Regions from separate parts of the Homo sapiens genome. Here all the other regions are linked to region 1. The links come from fine-mapping of genetic effects on gene expression. A gene starts in region 1. Each other region holds a variant in brackets. All regions are shown on one strand. Distances are between the middles of the regions.

What was found. PIP is the estimated chance that this variant, and not a neighbour inherited with it, causes the effect.
Region 2: its variant is fine-mapped to the expression of JAML in whole blood (TOPMed, PIP above 0.99).
Region 3: its variant is fine-mapped to the expression of JAML in cerebellum (GTEx, PIP above 0.99).

The regions. Positions count from the first base shown.
Region 1 is chr11:118,220,108-118,228,286 of GRCh38, forward strand. It overlaps JAML (junction adhesion molecule like), which reads right to left and starts at 4,904. Exons shown (of 10, transcript NM_001098526.2): 1 at 4,834-4,904. It overlaps MPZL3 (myelin protein zero like 3), which reads right to left. Exons shown (of 6, transcript NM_198275.3): 6 at 6,583-8,179.
Region 2 is chr11:118,193,752-118,201,930 of GRCh38, forward strand. It overlaps JAML (junction adhesion molecule like), which reads right to left. Exons shown (of 10, transcript NM_001098526.2): 7 at 6,723-6,861; 8 at 4,247-4,340; 9 at 2,984-3,070; 10 at 1-666. The coding sequence ends at 574. Among named protein-coding and RNA genes, the nearest start is that of SCN2B, 21 kb to the left of the region's middle. RefSeq lists an enhancer at 513-702. The variant C/G (reference allele first, on the strand shown) is at 3,071.
Region 3 is chr11:117,834,881-117,843,059 of GRCh38, forward strand. It overlaps FXYD6-FXYD2 (FXYD6-FXYD2 readthrough), which reads right to left. Exons shown (of 10, transcript NM_001243598.4): 2 at 7,839-7,901; 3 at 7,110-7,148; 4 at 6,911-6,985; 5 at 5,439-5,488; 6 at 4,901-4,950. The coding sequence starts at 7,896. FXYD6 (FXYD domain containing ion transport regulator 6) reads right to left here. Exons shown (of 8, transcript NM_022003.4): 2 at 7,839-7,901; 3 at 7,110-7,148; 4 at 6,911-6,985; 5 at 6,268-6,304; 6 at 5,439-5,488; 7 at 4,901-4,950; 8 at 2,101-3,397. The coding sequence starts at 7,896. The coding sequence ends at 4,922. It overlaps FXYD6-AS1 (FXYD6 antisense RNA 1), which reads left to right. Exons shown (of 3, transcript NR_186291.1): 2 at 1,389-1,622; 3 at 2,288-3,439. Among named protein-coding and RNA genes, the nearest start is that of FXYD6-AS1, 5.3 kb to the left of the region's middle. RefSeq lists an enhancer at 6,832-8,031. The variant T/C (reference allele first, on the strand shown) is at 4,700.

The DNA of each region.
Region 1 (8,179 bases):
ACTCAGACCCACCTCTTTCTCACTCTAAATTCTCCCCATGAAGACAGGCAAACCTCCTGCTCTGGATGTTCCCAAACTAGGTGAGCTCAAGCAACCTCAGAGCAGTGAGTCTCCCCATTCACCTCCCCTCTCCTCATACCTGAACCGATTATCCGGTGCAAGGCCCCAGTGCAGAGAAGTCTTTCTGATAGCTGGGATGCCCTTTAGAAAGTGCACCCAAGTCCATCAGTGGATGAGAGTGGAACGCTTTTCCTCAGCGAGAAGCCTCAAGAGAAAGCAGTTTGTGTCCCCAGCGGACATTAGCCCCCAGAGGTTGGCTCATCATTTTCCAGTCCCACCATGGGACAAATCCCATCTGTTCCTTCAGACTCACCTCTGCATTGCATCCTAAAACATTGAGACAAATTTAACCCTCAGACTCTCAAAAAGAAACATCTACTTTTCTTGTGTAATACAGCGTGGTCCCTATGCAAAGAATCCTCAACTTGGCCTCCTCGATCTTTTATAACCAAGAGCAGAATAAGGAGGCCAGGGCTAAGGAGAAAGAAAAATGCAGGGAAGAAAGGCAGGCTCAATTGTTGGCTGATTTAGAAGCCCTCAGCTCCCTCCAGGTTGCCCTAAGGACACTCCTCCAGGTAAGTGCCCTCAGTGCAGATGGCCAGGCCACTGGAAGGCAAACTGCCCCAATGGGATACATGGGAAAAAGCCCCGCACAGCTTGTACCCTCTGCCACAAGCTCAGCTGCTGAAAATGGGACTGTCCTGAGGGCTGAAAGACCCTGAGGACAGAATTCTAGCCCCTGATGGCCTTAAAATGAAGTGGGCTCTCTGCCCCCGCTGAATTCCAAATCACAGCAAAACAAAGCCAAGGGTGACTCTGGAGGTGGCAAGTAAAATTATCAATTTCCCCTTGAGTTCAAGAGCTCCCTGTCATAGAGATGCCTCCTCTACCCCTTTCTGGAAATACCTTTTGCTTATATGGTAAAAATCTGGAAAATCACTATCTGGAGTTTAACAGGCTTTTAGATTCAGTCACCATTGGAACTGAGTACACCATTAAAAGGAAAAGGCAAAATTAAAAGAAGCATGCGTAATAATTACATGGCTAGTCCTAGAAAGTTCTCTTGAGCAGTTAAAATCCTTTGCAAGCTTGAAATGCTCTAAACTCCTCCCGGAAAAAAACAACAGCAGTTATCTTGCACTATAGTTCACTGGTCCCCAATCTTTTTGGCACCGGGGACAATTTTTCCCCATGGAAAACAATTTTTTCATGGAAGACAATTTTTCCACAGACCAGGGAGGGTGGGTGATGATTTGGGGATGAAACTGTTCCACCTCAGATCACCAGGAATTAGATTCTCCTAAGAAGCATGAAACCTAGATCCCTTGCATGTGCAGTTCACCATAGGGTTCATGCTCCCGTGAGAATCTAATACCCTCGCTGATCTGAAAGGAGGCAGAGCTCAGGCAGTAATGCTTGCTTGTCTGCCCCCGACTTACCTCCTGCTGAGCGGTTCGGTTCCCAACAGGCCATGGACCAGTGCCAGTCTACTGCCCAGGGGTTGGGGACCCCTGCTGTAGCTCAACTGCTAAAGCTTTGCCCTCTCACAGTGGTGCCCTGGGTTCAATTCCTGGCTCCAAAAGTGAGTCTTTTGTGGTTTAATCATTTATTGATTCTTTTCCCCTCCATGGAGAGCTCCTAATTTCCTGTCTTGAAATTTTCTTTTCTCTGAGTTACCTTTGGGGCAATTCTAGATCTTGTAAATTGCTTACCATCTCTTTGGAGACACCTTGTGTGTCCCTGTTTAAGTTATCCCCTTACTTAAGGTTTATTAATTTCACATAGGAGGTTACCTTTAGGTAAAGATTCAAAAGCCAGAAATATTGGCCATTTGTCCTGGCTAAAATCTGGTAATAAAAGATTTTTATAGGATTTTTATTTTGAGAACTCCATAGTCAGAAATCAACTTAATTAAAGACGATATTTGGGCTGTATGTATACAGATATTGTTTTAAAAGCCCCTGCTGGCCAGGCACAGTGGCTTATGCCTATAATCCTAGCACTTTGAGAGGCCAAGGTGGACAGATCGCTTGAGCCCAGGAGTTTGAGACCAGCCTGAGCAACTTGGTGAAACACCATCTGAACAAAAAAAAAATACAAAAATTAGCTGGATGTAGTGGCAGGCACCTGTAGTCCTAGCTACTCAGGAGGCTGAAGTGGGAGGATCACTTGAGCCCAGGAGGCTGAGGCTGCAGCGAGTTGTGATCGCACCACTGCATTCCAACCTGGCGACAGAGCGAGACTCCATCTAAACAAACAAAAAGCCCCTGCTTTCCCTCTAAGAACTTCTCAGTCAATGGAATTTTGTCTTGATTTTCCATTTCTGTCTGTCTGTGTATTTATATGTGTTGTATGTATAGTATTTATATAAAAGAGCTCTAATTAATTGGCTTAAAGAAACTAAAATCAAACATTTTATCAGAAAAAATTGAAACTTTAATCTCTTTTAGGTCACGTGACTCTAATGATTTTTAAACATAAAGACAGTGTAAATAACATAAAAAATAAAGACAGTGTAAGTAAAGAATGTGTTTTGGTGGGAGGTTATAAGAAGGCGTGTGAATATGGTTTCTGTTAAAGAGAACGTAATTTTGTCTAGCTCAGAGGGTTTTAACTATTGGCCTCACCTAAAAGAGTAATGGGACAGCTGGGCATGGTGGCTCACGCCTGTCATCCCAGAACTTTGGGAGGCTGAGGTGGGGAGATCACTTGAGGTTAGGAGTTCCAGACCAGCCTGGCCAACATGGCAAAACCCCGTCTCTACTAAAAATACAAAAATTAATCAGGTGTGGTGGTGAGCGCCTGTAATCCCAGCTACTTGGGAGGCTGAGGCAGGAGAATCACTTGAACTCGGGAGGCGGAGGTTGCAGAGAGTCGAGATTGTGCCACTGCATGCCAGCCTAGGTGACAGAGTGAGACTCTGTCTCAAAAAAAAAAAAAAAAAAAAAGAGTAATGTGACAAAACTGATGGTTTAAGCAAGTTGAAAAGGGTTTGTGAAGGGTTAATCTCATGAAAAGTTCTGTGGGTATAAGCAGGTTGGCTAAGATTTAAAGGGGATTACTTAGTTTTTCCATAGGTCGAACACTGAAATAAAAGCACACTGATGTAGGGCCAGAATCCGGGCCCATGTGTCTGAATAATGGTTTTCTAGAGAATTTATTTGTTTAACAGAAAATTGTAAAGAATTATGAGAGGTTTGTGGACGTTTTACCTTATGGTCAAACTATGATTGTATAGATTTGTTTATAAGGTTTTATTAAGAATTGGATCTAACATTAATAATATACTAATGCAAAGGTGAAATTTTGCTTTCTCTCATAAACAAGATTTTTGCATAATATTTTAAAATAATGAGATTTTTGTTTACCTTTTAATAAACAACAGAAAAAGGAGGAGAGAGGAAATAGATTCGGTTGGCATCATGCTGTCTTTATTGCGACCTGCTTGGAAAGTTGACTCTCCCCTCTATCAGCAAGTAAAGATTTTTGCCTTTTAGAAATTTTGGAGTTATCATTTTGGCTACCTAAATGACTTGTAGTGACTCTATACTAATCTTCTCTGAGCAACTCTCCTCCATATCCTGTTGGGTAATGAGAACAAGTGGCACCCCCTCCCTCCAAAAAATCCATACCCCTTTATATTACAGAAAAGAAATCTTCAGAAAAGAGACATGCTACAATGAGACTACCATACAAGATGTGAAAGTTACCCCCCAAATTACAATATCATGAGACAAAATAAGGGAGAGCTGCTGTCTCTCAGTGTTTGTCCCTAGTAAGGACAACTAACCACTGAGCAAACGGACAACTGCACAGCCTTCTTTTACTCACAGAGTGTTGTCCACCTGCAGAGCCAAGTCCTCTCAATCTATCTGCACACTGCTGTGCACTTCTAGGCTCTCAGATGTTTTTAGGTCTACAAGTCCATATAACCACTCTAAGCCATGCGTCTTAAAATATGCCCTCATTTTCCATTGTTAAGCCATTGAATACAGACTGGTAGGTCACGTGGCTTCTGTAACACAGTCTAGGTCACATCGGTTAATGCTCTACGCGAATGGGACCCTGGAGGTCCTTACTCCTGCTCTCTTCTCCAGAGTAGGTTATACCTAAACCATCCTGCATCAGCCTTTCCCAAGGTCAGGGCTGTGCTGAGGGTGTAACAAGCATGGACAGTAGCCTAGCTTTCTTGGGAGATTTAAGTCTCGGGCTTCTAAAGGTTAAATATTGGTTTGTCTATAATGGGGAGAAGAAAAACAGTGGTATAACTATGTAAAATGATGGATATATTAATCTGCTTCACCATAGTAAACTTTTTACTATCTACATGCATCCCACAACATCATGTTGTATACCTTAAATACACACAATAAAATTTGTTTAAAAATAAAATTAAAAACTGTCTTCTAAAAAGAAAAACAGTGAAGAAAGAGCTCTGCTGTGAGCTCAAGAACAGCCAGTCACAGCTCCACCTAAACCCACGGGTGACTTAAAAGCTGAAGCCTTGTCATAATCATTGTCACGTACTCTTATTATGATGAAACTTTGCTCCTCTTTTTGCTGAGGAGATTCACCTAAGTTACTCTACACGACAGTAACTGAAACAGCACCCATTAGACTACTTTATGACATCCCCCTGCAGAGATCAAGAGTTCTGCAATCGCAGCTTCACAATCCTGAGAGACTACCAATTCAACCAGCCTTCAGGACTGGCACACTTCTGTGTGAGAAAAGTTCAAAAAATGGCTTAAGAAATTCAAAGCAACTGCTTACCCAAGATGAAGAGCACCCAGGGGAGGCAATGCACTGAAATCTCCCCACAGCTGCAGTCCCCAAGCTCAACTGAAAGACTGCTGCGAGCACTCTAGGTTAGGCTCAGAGCAAACCAAACACGTGCCTTCTGAAGTGGTTGCAGAGATGCAAACAGGAACCTCTAAATCAAGGTTCTCATTTCAGTCATCTGGCCCATTACCCAATTGTTATGTATACTTTCATTCTAAAAAGAGGTGACAAATTCAACCTACTGAGGTGAACCTCACACTCAGACCTCTTCAGGTGCCATCTCCCCTTTTAGATGACAAGCCCTCTGAGGGTAGGAGCTTGAATGGCACCAGGCAAATAGGTGCTGAGAAAGAAATCCATTTCATGCAAACAAAATACAATAAACGTAATATTAACACAAAACCTTCTGTGTTAAAGATACAGCAACCTCTTTTATTTTTCCTCTCAAAACAGAGGTGCAACCTCGCCAGGCAATCACCCAATCCCTGCTTCCAAAGATACGCCTGCCCAGTCCTCCAACTCACCATGTAGACATGAAAGTTTCCTCTGGCCATGTGATATCAGCATTTCCAGAATACAGGCAGCCATTGATTCCCATAGAGAACCTCTTGGGTGACTTGGACATCCTAGATTAGAACTCAAGGTTTCTTCACTTCAAGATACCTCTCAGTCTTAGTCACCACTTCAAAATAGGTGTTCTCAATGTACGCACCTTCAACCTCGGCTAGATTGGCTTGACCTAGGCATGGGCAGACTCATGGAACTTGTCCTGTATCATCTGAAAAGCTGTTGAACGTTTGCTCCCAAGCACTACGCTGCATGGTCCTTGAGAAGTGATGTGCTAGAGAGCCAGCAATCTCCACAGCATAAATATTCCCATCATAACCTATTTCAAGCTACCAACAGTTTAACAACTGGCTTGCAAAATTCCTAAAAAACTTAATACAGGTTGAGTATCCCTTATCCAATATGCTTGGGACCAGAAATGTTTCAGATTTCATATTTTTTTCAGATTTTAGAATATTTGCCGAATACATACAAGTTGAACGTCCCTAGTCTGAAAATCCAAAATGCTCCAATAAGCATTTCTTTGGAGCATCATGTTGGCACTCAAAGTTACAGATTTTGGAGTTGAAATAGCAACCACTCTTTTGTATTTTCAGATTAGGGGTACTCAGCCTGTAATCAGCTCTTGCTATGTAAGCTGGTTCCAGCACACCACGGAACCTCTGCAGGTTCTTGCGGGGGTACAGCTCCGACATGACTGGTTGCACGATGCTGAAAACCACTGTTAAATCAAGTTTAGCCTAAAGCTGCCTCCTTACATATTTTAAGTTTGGCCTAAAGGTTTCTCTGTACATCATGAACTATAACGTAAATGGAATAGTATACGGACTCTAGTCTACTCTTGTGCCAGTCACTGAGTTTGGCCAATCGAAGATGGCCAATGATTCAAACTATTCAAATAAGGCAAACACCGAGCTGTAACCAATCCGGCTATTTCTGTACCTCACTTCTGTTTCCTGTACATGACTTTCCTTTTGCTGTCCATAAATCTTCCACCACGTGGCTGCGCTGGAGTCTCTGAGTCCACTCTGGCTCAGGAGACTGCCTGATTCATGAATCATTCTGTGCTCAATTAAACTCTTTTAAATTTAATTCAGCTTTTAATACCACAAACCCCCATCTTTTTCACATGACAATTCCCACCTTTTATGTAGATATGCACACACCAAAAGGTAGCCAAAGGGTACAAAGAAGTTTATTGACTATGATGCAGTAAAGATACCAAGAGTTACAATATTTGTGCATATGGCCCAACAGTGCCTACCCTCCTACAAAACAAAAACAAAAACAAAAAAAGGCAATGAGGTGCAGCAGTTAACAGCCCAACACTGGAGTCAAAGGAATGGAGCTGCCTCTTCTGGCAGCAAAGTTTCAAGTTGTGCAATTAAATAATAGTCTTGGTCCACTCCTTGTGGGTCTTCTTACAGTTTCCCTTTAGAACCATAACTGAGTGACTTAGTAGAACATTCATATTCAGGATGTGGCCTCCAGAAGTGTCGTTTTGTTTTGTTTTGAACAAAGACGTGCTACCTTCTCTCTTGAAGCACCAGTGCTGGGTTCAGGAGCTACAGAGGACTAAGATGTTCCCCAAGTAGCCTGAAGTAACAGGTCACATGGAAAACACAAAGCAATTGGTGAGTCCACATTTTGTAATAGAATTAAGAGCGTAATGCATAAAACTTAAAGTCATGTAACCACATGTAAAAACTTCAGCAGCTAAAGAAAAATTCTGGAAGGCTTTTAACCCCTTCTGAACTAAGTTCCCTTTCTAAACGAGGCTGGTTTCCATGGCTGTGACAAGAGCTCATGAGGTAGCAAAAAGAGAGAGAGAATAGCACCTTAGAAGTTACTCAAACAAGAGGTGAAACAAATAAGTAAACAAAAAAAGACCACTTTATCTTCCTTTCATCCTTAAAGAAGGCAGGTGTCTGTACACTGCTTTGTGATCCTTCGAAGAATAAAAAGCTGTAACCCAAATCTCAGTATAAGGGATGAAGAAGGAAAATGATAGCAGCTGATGACTGGGATGCGACCACAAACCCATATAGTAAACTAAGTTATCAACGTACTCCCTTACCACGAAGGACTTCATTCAGTCATTTAAAAAGCAAGGGACTAGTTCAAATCATGATTAAGGCTATAAAAGAACACGACTGAGTATTCACAGAGCACCAATTACCTCAAGTTTAGACTAGGTGTCAATCTACAAACATACTACCCTGCATTAATCTTCACAACACACCTGCGAGGACATTACAAGAAGGCCCAGCCAAAATTAGTTCCTCATTTAATGGGATATGGCTTTCAGTGGGTTCCTGTAACACCATCTCTTTCTTGGAGAAATGAGGACCTGCAAAATAGTCCCCCTCACAATGAGATCTCTATCTTCAAATCTCTGAGAGCCCAAGTTATTTACTCTCATTGCTCAAGTTGCTTTCCTCTCTCTGTTGAGGTGTCAGAAATGGTCACGTTAGATTGGCCTCAGACAACCACAAAAGTTAACAAGCAGTCCCAAAGTACCGTGAGGTTTAACCACTGGAAATGTAAACTGCCGGTCCTGTCTTTGCCCTTCTACTTCCTCGCGTGACCAGAGTCAAATCACAATGTCCTTCAACTAACCAGATTCGCTCATCTGTGGACTAGGTTAACAGAAGAGGCTAGGCCAAATCTATGATACGGATCTAACAACCCAAATTTTTTAAATTAAGTCTTCAAAAAAAAAAGAAAGAAGTTGAGAGAGAGAAAAGTGATTTTTAAACTAACATATACA
Region 2 (8,179 bases), 26 kb before region 1:
TACTTCCAACCCATTCACCCCAAACCTTTCCCAGGACCAAAACCAGCCTCTAGTGTGTTAGCACGGTTTGGCTTTCCTCCAGGAACTTCAGTTTTTCCAAAAGTTTCTAACTGTAAATTCCTCACCAGGACTTTACTTGCCCCCTCAACCGAGGCATAAAAATAGGACGATTTCCACAAACAACACTTATTTAGAAATAATGTGCCAGAGGAATGATTTGGGTTGGTTTTTATCTCTGATTCTTCCCAGTAACTCATCCACTAAGAACCCTGCCCACAGGAGGGTCTGATCCAACGGGGGGTTTGAGGCCACTCAGCTCAGCCTGGTTCCCAGGGCCAGTGTCCCACTCCAGAGGCCAAGTCCATGCTCCCCTCCCCTCAGCAGGCCTGTTCCTCCAGAGCTGTCCAGTCTCTCTGCCAGGCTCCAAATTCTCCATCTTCAGTGTATTGACCAAACAATGAGACAGGAGGACAGCTGGGAGAGCGGGAGTCTGAAATCACTGGTAGAGTGGCCCAGGACACACACAGGAGAGAGTCTCCACCGCTGCTGAGATGAAGGGACTCTCCATTCTTCTCAAAAGGCTTGCTGTGTTTTTGGCATTCCCCCACCTGACTTTTTTTCAAGTGAGTTGTTCCGATCTGACCTCAGAGAAGGCCAAACTGGGTGCTGTGGGGGAAGGGCAGAAAGAAACAAAACATGCTTGTAAGAAGTAGTTCCATAATCATAGCAGCTGCTGTTCATTGAGCTCTTCTCATGAGCCCGGCCCAGTACTGAATTTCATATGCATTATCTCATGTGATCCTTACCACCAGGAGGTAGGTATTATTATTGCCTTTCTAAGGATAAGGAAACTGAGGCTCAGACAGGCCAAGTTACTGCCCAAGACCATCTGGCTGCAACACAGAGTTAGAATTTGGACCCAGGTCTGTCTAACTCCACAGCTTGTGATCTTAACCTCTGTGTGTACAGCCTCAGAAAGGGAAAACAGCAAGGTGCCACTACATTTACATGAATTTCATCAATTCAACAACAAAAAACAAAGGCTCTTTGTTACCCCTGCTCCCTATCAGAGAACACCTTTATAAATGCAGTCTCAAACAAGTGGCCTGCAGTCCCAAATTCACCAACAGCCTTATTTAACTTGGCACATCATATTTTAAAATAACTTGACTGGCCCCTGCCAGCCTTTGAGTTTGCAGCCCAGGCCTCTTCTCTTACTCTATTGGATCTAGATCAAGAGGACAGGAATGGTGTTTTCAACAGAATCAAAACCATAATCGCCTAGCATTAAACCTGGGGAAGTTAGCTGTGAAGACAATTGTTCCTCCTGCATCATCTCCACCTCGGAGACGTTCTGCAAACAGTGCCACCCTGGCTGGTGACCCACTCAGCAGTAGCCACAAGGCAGCTGTATCAGCAGGTCTCCAGGAGCCAGGATGAGGCCTCGCAAGTTACTGCAGCATCACATAACAGTATGGGAGAAAGATACAGAGGGAAAATGATTCCATTCAGCTGCAACTTCAGGGTGGAGTTAATGTTTCACTCGGTGGATCCAGGCCAGGCCTCTGATCTCACACTTCCCTGGCAGACCTCTCTCTGCTGCAATCAGCTGGGAGTCATGTGTCCTCAGGGCTGGTACGATAGGAACAAACAAAGCCCATCATTCCACAAGCAGAGGAGGCCAGCCTTCCCAAACCCACAGAACACTGCTCCTTAATAGGCTGGGTGCCTATAATTAGTCTACAAATAGCACCGTGCTCATCGCCAGCTCACTCCTTTTGTCCCTACCCCCACTCACTGCACGCCCCGAGGTGCCTTTTCCAGGCACTGCAGTTCTCTAAGGGGCTACAGAAGTCTAAGCAAAGGGAAATTAGGAATCAGACTCCAAAATATTGTATGAGATCCAGCATGCAGCCTGCCTGGCAGTTAGGTTATGAGAAGGTATAATAAGTCACAAAGTTAAGAAACAAAATCTAAGCATTGGAAGGAACCCTACTTTGACCTTTTGATAGCAAGGAAAACGACTCACAGCAACACAATACTTGCCCAAGGATCTTATCCTATTTATCCTATTTTCTTTGTTGTTGTTGTTGTTTTGAGACAGGAGTCTCGCTCTGTTTCCCAGGCTGGAGTGCAGTGGCGCGATCTTAGCTCACTGCAACCTCCACCTCCCAGGTTCAAGCAATTCTCCTGCCTCAGCCTCCCAAGTAGCTGGGATTACAGGTGCCCGCCACCATGCCTGGCTAATTTTTTTGTATTTTTAGTAAGACAGTGTTTCACCATGTTGGCCAGGCTGGTCTCAAACTCCTGACCTCAAGTGATCCACCTGCCTCAGCCTCCCAAAGTGCTAGGTTTACAGGTGTGAGCCACCATGCTCGGCCTTTTTTTTTTTTTTTGAAACAGAGTCTTACTCTGTCTCCCAGGCTGGAGTGTAGTGGTGGATCTCGGCTCATGTAACCAACGCCTTCCAGGTCCAAGCAATTCTCGTGCCTCAGCCTCCCAAGTAGCTGGGATTATAGGCACGCATCTCCACACCTGGCCAATTTTTGTATTTTTAGTAGAGAGGGAGTTTTGCCACATTGGCCAGGCTGGTCTTGAACTCCTGGCCTCAAGCAATCCGCCCACCTCGGCCTCCCAAAGTGCTGGGATTTCAGGCATGAGCCACCACACCCGGCCGTGTTTTCTTTATTAGATTGAACTGATGAGGCAAAAGACGTCCTCCCTGCCCTCAGTAAAAGCCACTCTTCACTTCTTTTCACCACTAATATAAATAATCTCTGGTGATAACCTTTAATCCTTGAGCTTGGGTAAGAAAGTTTGATATCACTCTTCTATCCAGCAGAACTTCAGTTTCTCAGACTTTTCTGCTACTTAGAAAAATCACCGCCCTCAGCAGCCTCCCTTGGGCAACCCAGCCACGCCCACCACCACCACCACCTGAGCCTCTGACACCTGGCTCAGCTGAGGCCAGAATCATTCTCACCATGGTCATGTAGGTGGCCTCTGATTTTTCACTTGGTTCTTCTTCCTCGATCACCTCCCGTACAATTATTGGGGAGTAAATGTGTTT[C/G]TAGAGGGGGAAAATGGTACAAAAATTCCTAAAAATTAGATGAATCTTATACACCAGAGAAAAGGCCACCCACTCCTATTTGCTAGGCATCGACCACCCAAACTGCTGGTTCAGAGGGTTACTGAGACCTAGAGAATTCTCAACAATGATAATTCAGTCTTCAGTCTTCTTGAAAATTAACTGTCAAAGAACACAGTCTTAAGAACCAAACTCTTTGCTTCAAAAGCCAAACATCTTTGTTTAGATGGATGTTTAGGTAGCAGCAGGGGTTCCTTATCTTGCTAAATTCCTTGTATTCTGGGGTTATTTCCTTCTAATTACAGTAAAGGCAGAATGGCATTAATCAGCAGTGAATTGTCATCATCTCCCTCAGAGGATTTATGTGGCAGGGCCAGCCCTCATTGAACCTCACAACTGTGAGGTTCATGGTCCTGTCACTCGTTGGTAAAGCAGTATCATCCAGTGGCCCATTCTTGGACCACTGCACTCTACTGGGAAAAAATCCTACTCTTGGGACAAAAACAGCCCAAAATAGAGAAAGGTAACTATTCAAAGAGTTTTTTTAAAATTAAAGAAAGAAAAGAAAGAATAGGAGTTAAAGAAAACCAATCAATTTCTCAGTCTCTAGAAGCAATTATTTATAACTCCATTACAAAATCAATATGGAGAGAAAAGTCCTTCTTAATCCTTTCTTGCTAAGATCTTAGACTATTTCATTTTAAGCATTAGAACTCCTTAACTCCTGGATGTATTATAATTCTCCATTAGACTTTAGACAAATAGCACCTCCTAGATTACAAAGCATTTGCATATCATCATCTTATGTGAACCTTACAACAACCCTGTCAAGCAGGCTGGGCAACTATAGTATCTTTATCTTTATCCTCATTTTGCTGATGAGACTCAGGGAGGTGGCAGATCTTACTGACTCCAAGCGCAGTGCTCTTTCCTCAGCCCAATACCAGGATCTGCTGCCTGGGGCTGTCCCAGCCGACCCCATGCACTGTACTCCGCAGAGGCTCTTACTTTAGTGACAAAGGCTTCCTGAGTCCCTGCTCTGTGCCAAGCACTGGCCTGCAAGCTGCGACATACAATGGGTAAGATATGGTTCCCGGGGGTATGAGAACGGCCCAGGCCTGCATCTACTTAGTGTTTTAGGCTGAAGCGTGTGTTCACCTCCCCTTCACATCTTTCAAAATGGCAGGGTTTTTCTTTTATCTCTGGATTAGTCTTCTTCGTGTTCTTCACCAAGACTGTAGAATTCACTGAACTGCAAGACATGAAAAGCATGTGGAATTAACCAGCGGGCATGGTTTATTCAAGGGTCCCTACATGAGATCCCCTCTTGGCTTCGTGAAGAGAGAGACACCAGAGAAGGAACTATTCTCTCTGGACTCCTACAGCCAGGGCTACCCGGCTCACCTGGAAACCTGAGAAGCGCATCTCTTCTAATGAAGAACAAGAAGCCGTTCTGGAGATAATTTAGGCTGAAAAGCAGCTTCAACTTCTCTATTATCACTCAAGCCACTTTCAGTCCGTATGGGAGAGGTAATTTTAAGTGAATGAAGAGAGAGAGGGGAGATGGGATTCCATTTGACCATCCTGTCTACATTTCTGAGGACCAGGGAGTGCCGCGAAACCAGCAGGGGGCAGCAGGAGCTCAGCAAGACGCCAATCCGAAGGGCTCCTGGCCTTTCCGGGGGGCGGAGCAGAATAACCCCCACAAACACCCGACCCAAGCCCCAAGCAGGAGCTCTGCGCCTGCCCTGTCGGGGTCCCTTGGCCTTTGATCTCATGACCATTTGCCTTCTGAACATACTTTCTTTTTTTCTATTTTGGCCTAAGTCAGAACTAAAAAAAAAAAAAAAAAATTCAAGGTTTAAGCTAGAAAAGAAACCATATGTTTTGGTCTCAGTGGAAATATTTTCCTTGTATTTTCTGCTTTTAAAGTTGTATCTTCTCACTGTCAAATAATTCAGATAATACAGAAATGTAGACAGTTGGAAGTGGAAGTTCCCTGCAACCCGTCACCCCATGGGATCCACCTTCTCCTTCACTTCAAATTCCACACAATTACCCACATTTTACAACTGTCCTTCCAAGCCTCTCTCAGTGTAAGCATAAGCTCACATAAAATGTATTTAGTACATATGCTGCTGGAGTGAGCATCATATTATTTTCTCTTTTATAAAAATGAGGTCATACCATAAATTCTGTATTTTTACTCCTTGGATATCTTTCCATGTCATTATGTAGAGGGATCTGGAGTGTTTCATTGACTGGTTCACTGAATCGTTGCCTTTCTGACAGACACTGGCAATTATCCCTATTTTTAATTATAAGCAAGACGGCAGTTTTGCACAAATCTCAGCATATCCATTTAATTATTTCTTTAGAATAAACGACTAGACATGGAAGTGCTACCTTTCCTTTGGCGGGAAACTGAGGTCCCGACAGGGGAAGTAAGCTGAGAGTGGAATCCAGGTTGTCTAGCTCAGTGCTCCGAGCATGCCCAGAGCAAAGACCTTTAGAGAGGCCAGCCAAGTTCAAAACCAAATCAGGAAGCCCTAGGGAGTGCAAGTGAAAACTTAGCAGGCACAAGTGTTTTCTGCAGGATCCAAGACCCACTGGGAAAGAACACTCAAAAGTCAGGACTATTCATGAGGCCCTTTCCCACTGACACTATTTCAACAAGGGAGTCGATCTGCACTACAAGCATACTCCATCGATAGTTGGATAAACTGAGGGACATGGATCTGCCAACAGCCAGTGAAACACAAGTGTCCCTGTTGGAGCATCTGGGCACTTCTGAGACCCTGGGAGAACTACCGATGAAATTCAGGCCTTTAAAAGCACATTATTATTATTATTATTTTTTTTTTTTTTTTTTTTTGAGACAGAGTCTCGCTCTGTCACCCAGGCTGGAGTGCAGTGGCGTGATCTCGGCTCACTGCAAGCTCCACCTCCCAGGTTCACGCCATTCTCCTGCCTCAGCCTCCCAAGTAGCTGGGAGTACAAGCACATGCCACCACGTCCAGCTAATTTTTTGCATTTTTAGTAAAGACAGCTTTTCACCGTGTTAGCAAGGATGGTCTCGATCTCCTGACCTCGTGATCCGCCCGCCTTGGCCTCTCAAAGTGCTGGGATTACAGGCATGAGACACTGCGCCTGGCCAAAAGCATCTTTTAATAATAATTCATTTAGAACCTGAGGGCACCCATTCAAAGATCGTATCTCATAATTAGAATGTGGTCTTTTAGATAAAACCACTGGCAACCCTTAAGATCTTAGCTTCTATGCGGAACGTACAGTATGGATAATTTAAAAATCATCTTTTAGGCAGTGAATGGTACCATGATAGTTCTTGTGTAAGATTTATGCTCTGAATTATGCCCTACTGAGGCCCCCATTTCTAAGGGAGTTTGTAGTCTTTACATAATAACAAAGTGAATGAGGAGAGCGTAGGAATATTAAATTCTTTTCCCGGGCACAGTAAGCAAAGTGGGCAGGGTTACCACAGATGATTCCATTTAAAAATACCCCCTTCTGTGAGAATGGCATAAGTAGGGCCCTATCACCCTGTTCTACTTTGGGGTAGAGGCAGCCTTGCACCCCCAGCCTCCCAATCCAAGGGGTGGGGGTAGCCCTGTACCTCTTATTTCCACAGGTCTTCTTCACGATCAATATCAGAACAGGGAGCAGCAGGATTGTGGCACAGACAATTCCCACAATGATCACCAACTGATTACCACCCAAGACCAGAGGCCTCAGGGCTGCCGGGGTCACCAGTGCTTGGGAAAGTAGAAAAGCAAGGAGAGGGTCTCAATACTTTAGCAAAGAGCTGAGAGCCCCACAGCCCTATACCAAGTAGCACCAGCCAGGCCACGAAGCGGAGGGGAAGGCCAGACTCCACCCCATATCTGGACACTAGGGACACTGTCTCCATGAGATTGAGAACCAAAGTCTAACCCCCTCGTTTACCCTAAAATGTAGATTAAGGTGGGTGGGAGAAGAGGCTAGCAGTTCACCTCTAGTAAAGTTTCCTTTCACATCAACAATTCTATTCTAAAATTTGGCTTAACAAGGACCCAGAAATAACAGGCATTTGAGAGGCTGCTGATCTTCCTTAGGGCAAGTGGTTGTCTTCAAAAGAACTCATGCCGCAAGACTCAGCCCCACAGTGACGATACCAAGTAAAGCCTCCGGAGGTACTTCTGCCCATATGGAACCTTCTACTCATCTGCATGGTTCTTTCTAAATACATAAAGCAAACACCTCCTCAGGGCCAGACAGCACTAGGTACAGGGGATTCAGAGATGAATGATGATGTGTGGTCCCTGCTTCCAAGGAAGAAGACAAACACGTCAACAGAAAACCACAGGCTGCTGTAGGCGCTACAACAGAAGTCTGTATGGGGAACAGAGGGGCACAGAAAAAAGGGTGTCCAATTCTATATGCAGCAAGTGAGAATTTGCCAGCAAAAGTTCTAAAGTTTAACCTAAGACTTACAGGAAACATCCAGTTTGTTGGGAAGACAATATGGAGAAGGACAGAGGGGATGTTCTGCATGAGATCTGGAGGCCTGACAGGATGATGATTTTAGAAACTAGAAAGAGTTCAACGGGTCTGGCACAAAAGTGGCATTTGTGGGTGTGCTGGAGAATTTCGCTGGAGAGATGACAGGGTCCAAGTCAGGAAGGACCTTGACTATCTCAACCAAGAATCTGGCATTTTTCTGCAGGCAATGAAAACAACATTGAAAGATTATTAGCAGTGGAAGAGAAAGTTCTTAATGTGATTTAGAAAGATGGCACCAAGAGCCGCGTGAAGAATGAGGAGCAGTGGCTGAGAGAGAAAGCAGAGACTGGTTAGAGGCCTACAGTTCAAGACAGAGATGAAGACAGCCAGAACTAAGGCGGCAGTGACAGACTGGAAGGAAGACAACTTCAAGAGTCTGTAGTAGGAGTCAAGGACTTGTTGACCTGACCTGTTAGATTAGGGGTCTAGGAAAGGGAAAGAATCAAGCACACCCCCAGGCATCTAGTTAGACAACTGAGGTTGGGGAGATGGGCTGAGGAGGGGTGTGCAGGGGTAGGTTAGACATGTTGC
Region 3 (8,179 bases), 390 kb before region 1:
GAACCTCCTCATTGGACTTCCTTATTCCTATGTCGAAGTATAATGTTCTGTTTTTACTAACGTATGGGGGGCGGCACACACAAAGCTTTGCATGTCTAGGGCCTCTAGGGATCTCAGCCTGGCCTCGCTATGAAATTTCTGCAAGGCCTGTCAATTCCCTGATGTATCACGAGTGTTCCCGAACAATAAGCTCATTTACCAGGTCTTGCTGTGACCAGATAGTTTTTAATCGCCATGATCACTGGGTTGACAGGTTGAGCTTGAGCTCTACCATAAGCCTGTGTCTTTCCAAAGGCCTGGGGGACCGAAGGCAGAAGCAAGAGCACACGTAGAGAAGGCACCGAGCAAGCGGATCTGTGCGGTTCTTCGGTTCTAAACAACTTGCGGAATCCAGGCGGACTCAGGGCCTGTGTGGCCACTGGGCAGGGAAGGTGGTGGTTCCCAGGCCCATCGAAACCACAAGGAGCACTGACTTCTGTCTCCTGCTATAGCTTCAGGTGCCAGGTTCACTGGGGTCTTAGAAGTTGGGGCTGGAAGGAGGTGGGCCCAGAGGGTCCCGCTCCTTAAGTGCTGGCTTCAAGATGGAAGATATTAAGACGTTCCAGGGGTCGATTCTTTTTTCAAGACCCTAAGATGTTCCAGGCTTCTGTAGAGCAGGCACAGTCCTTGCCCTCCAGGAATTGTATCAATAAAGACACAAAACACTAGAGGCAGAAGCTGCACACAGGCAACCTCCACGCAGAATCTGCCCACATCTGTGTTGGTTTGGCCAACAGTGGTTTTTAGAAAGTTGAGTCAGAGTGTCTTTGGGAGGACACCGTAGGTGACTGCAGGTGCCATGCCCCATCGTCACTCCAGCAGATTCACATATTGGCATTACCTGCCTGGTCTCTACAGTCTGGATGCCAAGTATGAAGTGTGAATATAAAGGCAGCAAACAAGTGTGATTGGGGCACAAGAAAGGGATTCGGCTGGGCGCTGTGGCTCACGCCTCTAATCCCAACAATTTGGGAGGCTGAGGCAGGCAGATCACTTGAGGCCAAAAGTTCGAGACCAGCTTGGACAACATGAAGAAATCCCGTCTCTACTAAAAATATAAAAATTAGCCGGGTATGGTGGAAGGCACCTGTAATCTCAGCTGCTCAGGAGGCTGAGGCAGGAGAATCGCTTGAACTCAGAAGGCAGAGGTTGCAGTGGGCCAAGATAACGCCACTGCACTCCAGCCTGGGCGACAAGAGCAAAACTCCATCTCAAAAAAAAAAAAAAAAAAAAAAAGGGATTCGATTCTACCTAATGCCCAGGGAGGCTCCACAGAGGAGGGGTATTTCACAATCCACGTCACCCACCCTGTCACTCCCTTGATCCCTTCCTTCCTTTTTTCTTTTTAGAGACAAGGTCTCATTCTGTTGCCCAGGCTGGAGTGCAGTGGTGCAATCACGGTTCACTGCAACCTGGAACTCCAGGGTTCAAGCAATCCTCCTGCCTCAGCCTGCCGAGTAGCTGTGACAACAGGTGCGAGCCACCATGCCCAGCTAAGATTTCACCATGTTGCCCAGCTGGTCTTGAACTCCTGGCCTCAAGCAATTCTCCTGCTTTAGGCTCCCAAGTTGCTGGAATTACAGGTATGAGTCACCACCCCTGGCTCTCTTTACAAGTCCTTAGGTAGTGGCCCCAGAACTGACCAAAGAGAAATGTTAGGATGTTTTACTCCAGGCCACTGAGTACTTGGAGAAGCCATTGTGACTCCCTTTTTTGCTCCAAGACAGTGTGCAATGTACAGGTCCTGCTATGGGATGTGGCTTGAGCCCAGTGGCCTGGGAAGGCGGGAGAGAGGGAGGGAGGAATAGAAATGGCGGGAAGGTGCGGGACGAAGGGCTGAGCAGGAGGAGAGGAAAGTGAAGGAAGAAAAGGAAAGGAGGGAAGAGAAGCGGGGAGGAGGCAACAGTGACAGCAGCTGACGGGGCTCTGTGCCTGCCTGGGTGGCTATCCAGTCCTTCCTCTTCCCTCTGACCATGGACGGACTCCCTCTAGCCCTTTAAGTTCCACAGACCCTACAAACACTCAAGTTCTTTCACAGAAAGGAAAGCACCTCCGAGCCACTAGGAAACAAAGGATATTTTATTCCTTTTTTCTGTTGTTGTTGAGGATAGATCACGATACAGAGAACAGCAATGGGTCACAGCGCACGGTTTGGTTGGTTTCCGCGGGAACACAGAGGACAGGAGGGGCGGGATCTGGGTTGAGTTCCCACTCTCGTTATGACCTTCAACCTCTCACTGTTCCCAAGGGCTGCACGGAGCCTGCTGAGTCTCCAACCCACCTCGCTCACCGCTCTGACCACTGACAGGCAGAGCAAAGGATGCGGGAGTTGCCTCTGCTGCCCATCTAAGGGGACGTAGGCAGAGAAGCAAAGGCCTCTGCTCTCCCTCCATCCATCCCGGTGTGCTGGCCCCAACGGAACAGGAGTCCTTCAACTATTGCCTGCCAGAGACCCAATTGCAGGGACTGTAGTCTGCATCTGGATGAGCTGGGCTGTAGATTGAAGTCTCAGAAGCAGGGAAGGTTGGAAGGGGTAGGGTCCCAGAGCCCATGGAGTTATTGCTGAGAAGATATGCAGGGGACACATTCCCCAGGGGCAGAGTAGAAGCCCTGGGCCTGGAATCCCCGGGCGCTCTGTGAAGGGGCGGGGCAGATGGGGACTCCTCGTGGAAGCCCCTGGGAAGAAATTAACCACGGAAGGGCATAGCCTGCCTGACGTCAACGCTGGGCTCACCAGCTCCTTGCTTTGTATCTCCAGTTGCTAAGAGACCTTCAGACTGGGATCAGGTGGGATAAGGAAGCAAGGTTTTTGTTAAAGGAGTGAAAGGAGTCCATGAAGAATGATGACAAAGTGCTGCAAACCTTCCCAGGTCCCAAGACGACTGAAGACCACTGCCCGTGCTCTTACCCTACGCATCCCTAAATCAGGGGAGGGGGCTGGTCTCGGGCAACAAGCAGCCTCCTAGGAGCAGAAGGTGATGGAGGGCCACGGGGGCAGGGAGGAGCAGATGGCCATGTGGCTCAGCCCCTGCCTGGGAAAGCGAGTCCACAGTTCACTAACAAACACAATACCATCCACAAACAAGTAGCCACAAAGACCACAGTTAGCAAACACACACAGTCACACACACACACACACACACACACATCACGGGAGGTGGGCAGGACCGCAGGCTGCAGTGGGGAGGCAAGTGTTAGTTGCATCATCAGGTGGAGGAATGGTGTTAGAGGGGATAGGGTGGGGGACACACAAGTTCTTGGCTTCTCCTGGGGAAAGGGCTGTTGCTGAAGTGGCCGGTTTTCTTAAGCATCGACATTTGCATCCAAAGGTTCAAGCAGCCGCCTCAGGTTCCAGAGGCTGAGGAGGAGGATAATTTAAATTAAAAACACTTCGGCTGCCTCTGGTATCCTTATCTGCTTCTCTCCCTTCCTTGAGCACCTGCCCACTGAAATTCCCGGTATGACAGCCTCGTCTGAGACGCAGAGAAAGGAGACAAAGACACAGGGGAGGGGTGAACCTCAGAAGAAGCCTCTCCCAGGTGGGCTGGAGCCTGGCAGACATGGAAAGGAAATTGTTAAACCCAGGACCTCCCCAGTGGTTGCTCACAGTCCTGAGCCTTAGGATAAAAGGTTTCTGAGAAAGAACTAGTTTGGGAAAAAAAAAATGAAAAGACATTTCATTTCCAGGCTGCCTCCTCTGAGCCTTCCCAGATTCTCAGTCTGTGATGAAATAGACAGAACACCAAGCTACCAGGAAGGGCACCTGCCTCCTAGATCGGAATCTTCGTCCATTCGCACTTAGGTGATCACTTGCCTTCGAGAGCCCCATCCAGAAGACGGGAGTAATGAGCCCTGCTCTGCCCATCACGGGCCGCTATGAGGATGCAAAAGCACTTAGGAAAGAATTTAAATGCTACACAGGCACACGATATTGTTACGCACAGTCAAAGCTGGTGCATCGGGCACTTCATCATCCAGAAACCTCTTTTACCTTACAATGTGAGATAAACTTATATACCTTTCTATAATGCCTTACTTGTATGGGGGGAAAAAAAGGCAGAAGTGAGCTGACAAAACACAAACCTTTTCCCTTAGGATATTCCAGGGCATGTCATAAAGCGAGACGCACAGGACAGAGGGGAGCAGTGGCGCTGAACCACAGCCGCAAAGGCCTGAGTTCACAGTCCGGGCTGTCACTCTCCACGGGGCTATTCCCTCTCATCTTGGTTTCACCTATAAAATGGGCTAAACCCCACCTGTCCCATCCTCTTTTTCTGGCAGACTCGAGTGAGTCTGTGTGTGTGGTGGCACTCTGAAAACTGTACAGCATTTGCCAGTTACTACTCTCCTGTGCCCCCTACGATGAACAATGGAAATAGATACTAAAATCAGTGCCCTTAAATGTGGAGAGGGAAGGATCATATACTATTTGCTCTACTTTTGGTTAGGGTTGGGAAGTTTCATAATAAGGTGTTTAAAAAAACAAGTGGCCCTAAAGTACTTTCTGAGTCACCACGGAAAGCCATTATCTTTATGCTACTTTGAGATTAGGAGCATTTCACTAACTCTAATTCTCCCATGTTGCACTTGGGATGACGCCCTATGCACTCGGCCAGTGGGCTGTGTGGAAGCCCCATTTCCTGGTGTTGGCATGCATGTG[T/C]GTGGGACACTTCGGGTGTTTCTAGTCCTGGTCTCTCTCACAGCCCCTTTCAGACTCCTGAAGGCTCCTCAGGGCAGGGCCCATAATAAAAGCTGTGCCCACTGCAAAAGCTAGCCCCATCCTTCCCGCCTGAACCCCTGTCCAGGCCCTGATGCAGACGGTGATGGCAACAGGGGCCAATCCAGGCACTGAGCATCTCACCTTCCACCTGATGGCTGCACTTCAGTTCTCTGCTTTCTGGGGCTCTGTTGCTGGAAAGAAAACCAGAATGGATTATAGTGTATAGACTCCTCACCCCCGTGGGCCACCCCCAACAGCAGCCGTGTCTCTGCCTGACTCTGGGGGAGCAAAGAGGTGACGGGCATGGGATTTCGAGTCAGAACGATCTGGGTTCAATCCTGGCCCTGCTACTTGCTGCTTACAGGAACCTGGTAACCTCTCTCAGTCCCTCGGTTACAAAATGGGGACAATGATGCCTATTTCAGGGCTGTGTGCCCATTAAATGATATGGGGTCTGTGCCTGGCACAAGCAGATGCTCTGTAAATAGCAGGTGACACTAGTAGTAGCCTGTTTGGTGGAGTGAGGGGGCAATGCTGCAGAGGCCCTGGAGACCCACTCTCCTGGCACTGCGGGAGCATGTCTGGCTGGCCATGCACCTGGCAACAGTCCCTTCCTGAGCCACAGAGGGGTCTCTCTGTTCCCTCTTTTCCACCTGGGCAGGTGGTCACGGACAGTTACCATTGGCGGTGATGAGGTTCTCCACCTGGGCTTCCTCATCTCCTGGGGCCCTGCAGGAGAAAGAGACACACAGCCCCATCAGAGATCTCCAGGGCAGACCCAGAGAGCATCGTTCTGCTCCTCACTGGGGCACAGCTGCCTGCAGTCAGGCTCCTCCCAGTGCCCTGAGGGGCTGGAGCTCACTCTGCTGTGGGATGCATGGGACAGAGGGAAAGGTCTGGACTGAAGGGTCAGACTCAGAGGGAACTTACAGGCACCCTTCAATGTCAGCCCTCATGGGAAGGGGAGGCTAGGGCCACATGGGGGCTTGGGTGTGTCCTGCCACACGCTTTGGACTTCTGGGGTCCAAGCTACCCTTGGCTATTATAGTAAACTAATGGGGTATGACCTCTATGTGGGAGTAGAAAGAAGGTCCAAGTGTCTATTCAGCTCAAAGAGCCTCATGAACAGGTGACAAGTGGGGACTGTGTCGCAGGTCCTGTAGAGAGGACCTGGGCATCTAGAGAGGCCAGGAAGCCCTCTGCTTCCCTTCTCCCAAGCTCAACTGTCCCAAGGGCCTCCAGAAAAGGTTCCAGTACTTTCTTGTCCACTCCCCGTCCCCCACATAGATCAGAAGAGACAGGATGGGCTGACCTTCAATGTTTTGACCTCTCCTTTGCCCCAGAGTCTACCTGGCAGTCCTCAAACTTCCAGCCCTACGTCCCAACACACACGTTCTGCCTCCGAGACAAGAATCCAAGAGAATGCCCATTTGGGGGTCACACACCAGGGGTCCCTTCCTGTCCCACCTAGTATCACCCCCCCAAGGCCACTGCCACGGCATCCTTACCGGGGCTTCTGATTGAAACTGCACTTGCACCTGCGACCTGAAAAGCAAAGAAACCATCCAAGGTCATGCTGCTGGCTTGGCCACAGCAGGGCCAAGGGTCTGTGCAGGTTGTGGGACTATGTAAATGGCACCCCCTAGACCTGGGCAGTGCACAGTTTGCACAGCTGCACACAGTGGCCCTCGGATGGGGTAGCTTCTTCTGGGGCAAAGGAAATACATTCTATAGCTGGAATGGCTACACCCCCACAGCCCTCTTGATCATGTGAGTAAAGAGGGATCTGTGCAGATCAGGCTCATGTGGGAACAACAAACTCGGAGGCACATCCCTCGCACACTAGGGCAGCACCTGTCTCCTTCCTCCGTGACTGCCCCATTCATGCCCTATAGACACAGCACTGGGAAGCCACCCTGCTCGTTCCTATCTATGCTCATTGTCATATGACATTTTCTTTGTTCCCGTGTCACTGTTTTACTGAGCACTTACTATGTGCCCAGCACTCTACTGGGTCGTGAAGATAACACGGAGGGCAGGCAGCCTCCTTTCCTCTCCAGGAGAGGGACCAACCAGGCTCTCACACTGTCCCCACCTGCTTAGCAGCCTCAGTCATTGCTCTTAACAGAGTGAGCAAAAGAACAAACTTACTTAGGATAAGGAGGATCCCAACCGAGAAGAGGACCACAGCGAACACCAGTCCCCCAATCCTCAGGGTCTGGTAATCTGCCAAAGGAACCAAGGGTGAGAGAGGAAGGGGCCAGGGAGAGGGTGTCTGTTCCCCCTACCCCTCCTGCCAGGCAGGGCTGCATTCCCCCTGACCCCTGCACCCAGGGTTGCCATCGCTCACCATAATGAAAAGGGTCCATTTCCTTCTCCTTTTCAGCTGCTGCAAAAACAAACAGTTGGTCAAGAGAAAGAAAGCTACACAAACTGGTTCCCAAATATCTAACCTTGCCTCACAGACCTCAGTCTCCACAAAGGAATTCCAGAGGAGCAGGGCCCATTAAACAGAGATGCCTAGAGGTGCACGGTAGGGCGGGCCTGCCAGTTAGGGGGTTAGGGGAACCCTAAGGGCCGAGGTCAGTGAAGGCATCGAAACTCAGTGAGGCTCTGAGTCATGCAACACCCACATTCATTGCCCCTTTGTATTCTTACATCATCCCCAGAAGGCAGGGTCAGTTTTCCTCTTGTGACACACGGAGAAACCGAGACCAAGGAAGGACATATGACTTGCACGAGGCCAGCACTTGCTAATATGGTCTAGAGACTGATGTGCAGGTCTGAATCCCAGGGTTCAGGCCACAAATCCACAGAGGCGCAGTGAGCTTGCGGGGCTTAAAAACTACTCCCTGCCGGACCCTTAGGGGGCGAGGGGGCAGGCTGTGCTGAGGTCTGTGAATAAATAGCTGCCACCTCCACGACTTTCTCTGCTGACTGAAGGGAGAGGCCCCTGACTAGACATGAAGAACGTGAGAGTCCCCCAGCCCTAATGTCCCAAGGGGCCCAGAACCTTCCAGCAGAGAGGGCTGGACAGGGTTGTCATCTTGTCACAGCCAGGTCCCAGAGGGGTACTTACCACTGGCCAGGACCATGGGGGCCAGCAGGCTGCAGAGGAAGACCAGCACCAACTCCATGGCGTCTGGGGACAGAGGGAGGAAAAAATGATTCTCTGGCTAAGAAGCCTCCATCCGTCAGCTCCAAGCGTCAGCCTGACCAGGGGCCAAGCCAAATCCCCAGCTTTGCTCTGCACTCATGACTTGGTGAGGGTTCAAACAACCTAAGCACAAGCAGTTGACTTTTTTTTTTTTTGAGACAGAGTCTCGCTATCTTGCCCAGGCTAGAGCGTAGTGGCATGATCTCGGCTCACTGCAACCTCCGCCTCCCAGGTTCAAGTGATTCTTCTGCCTCAGCCTCCTG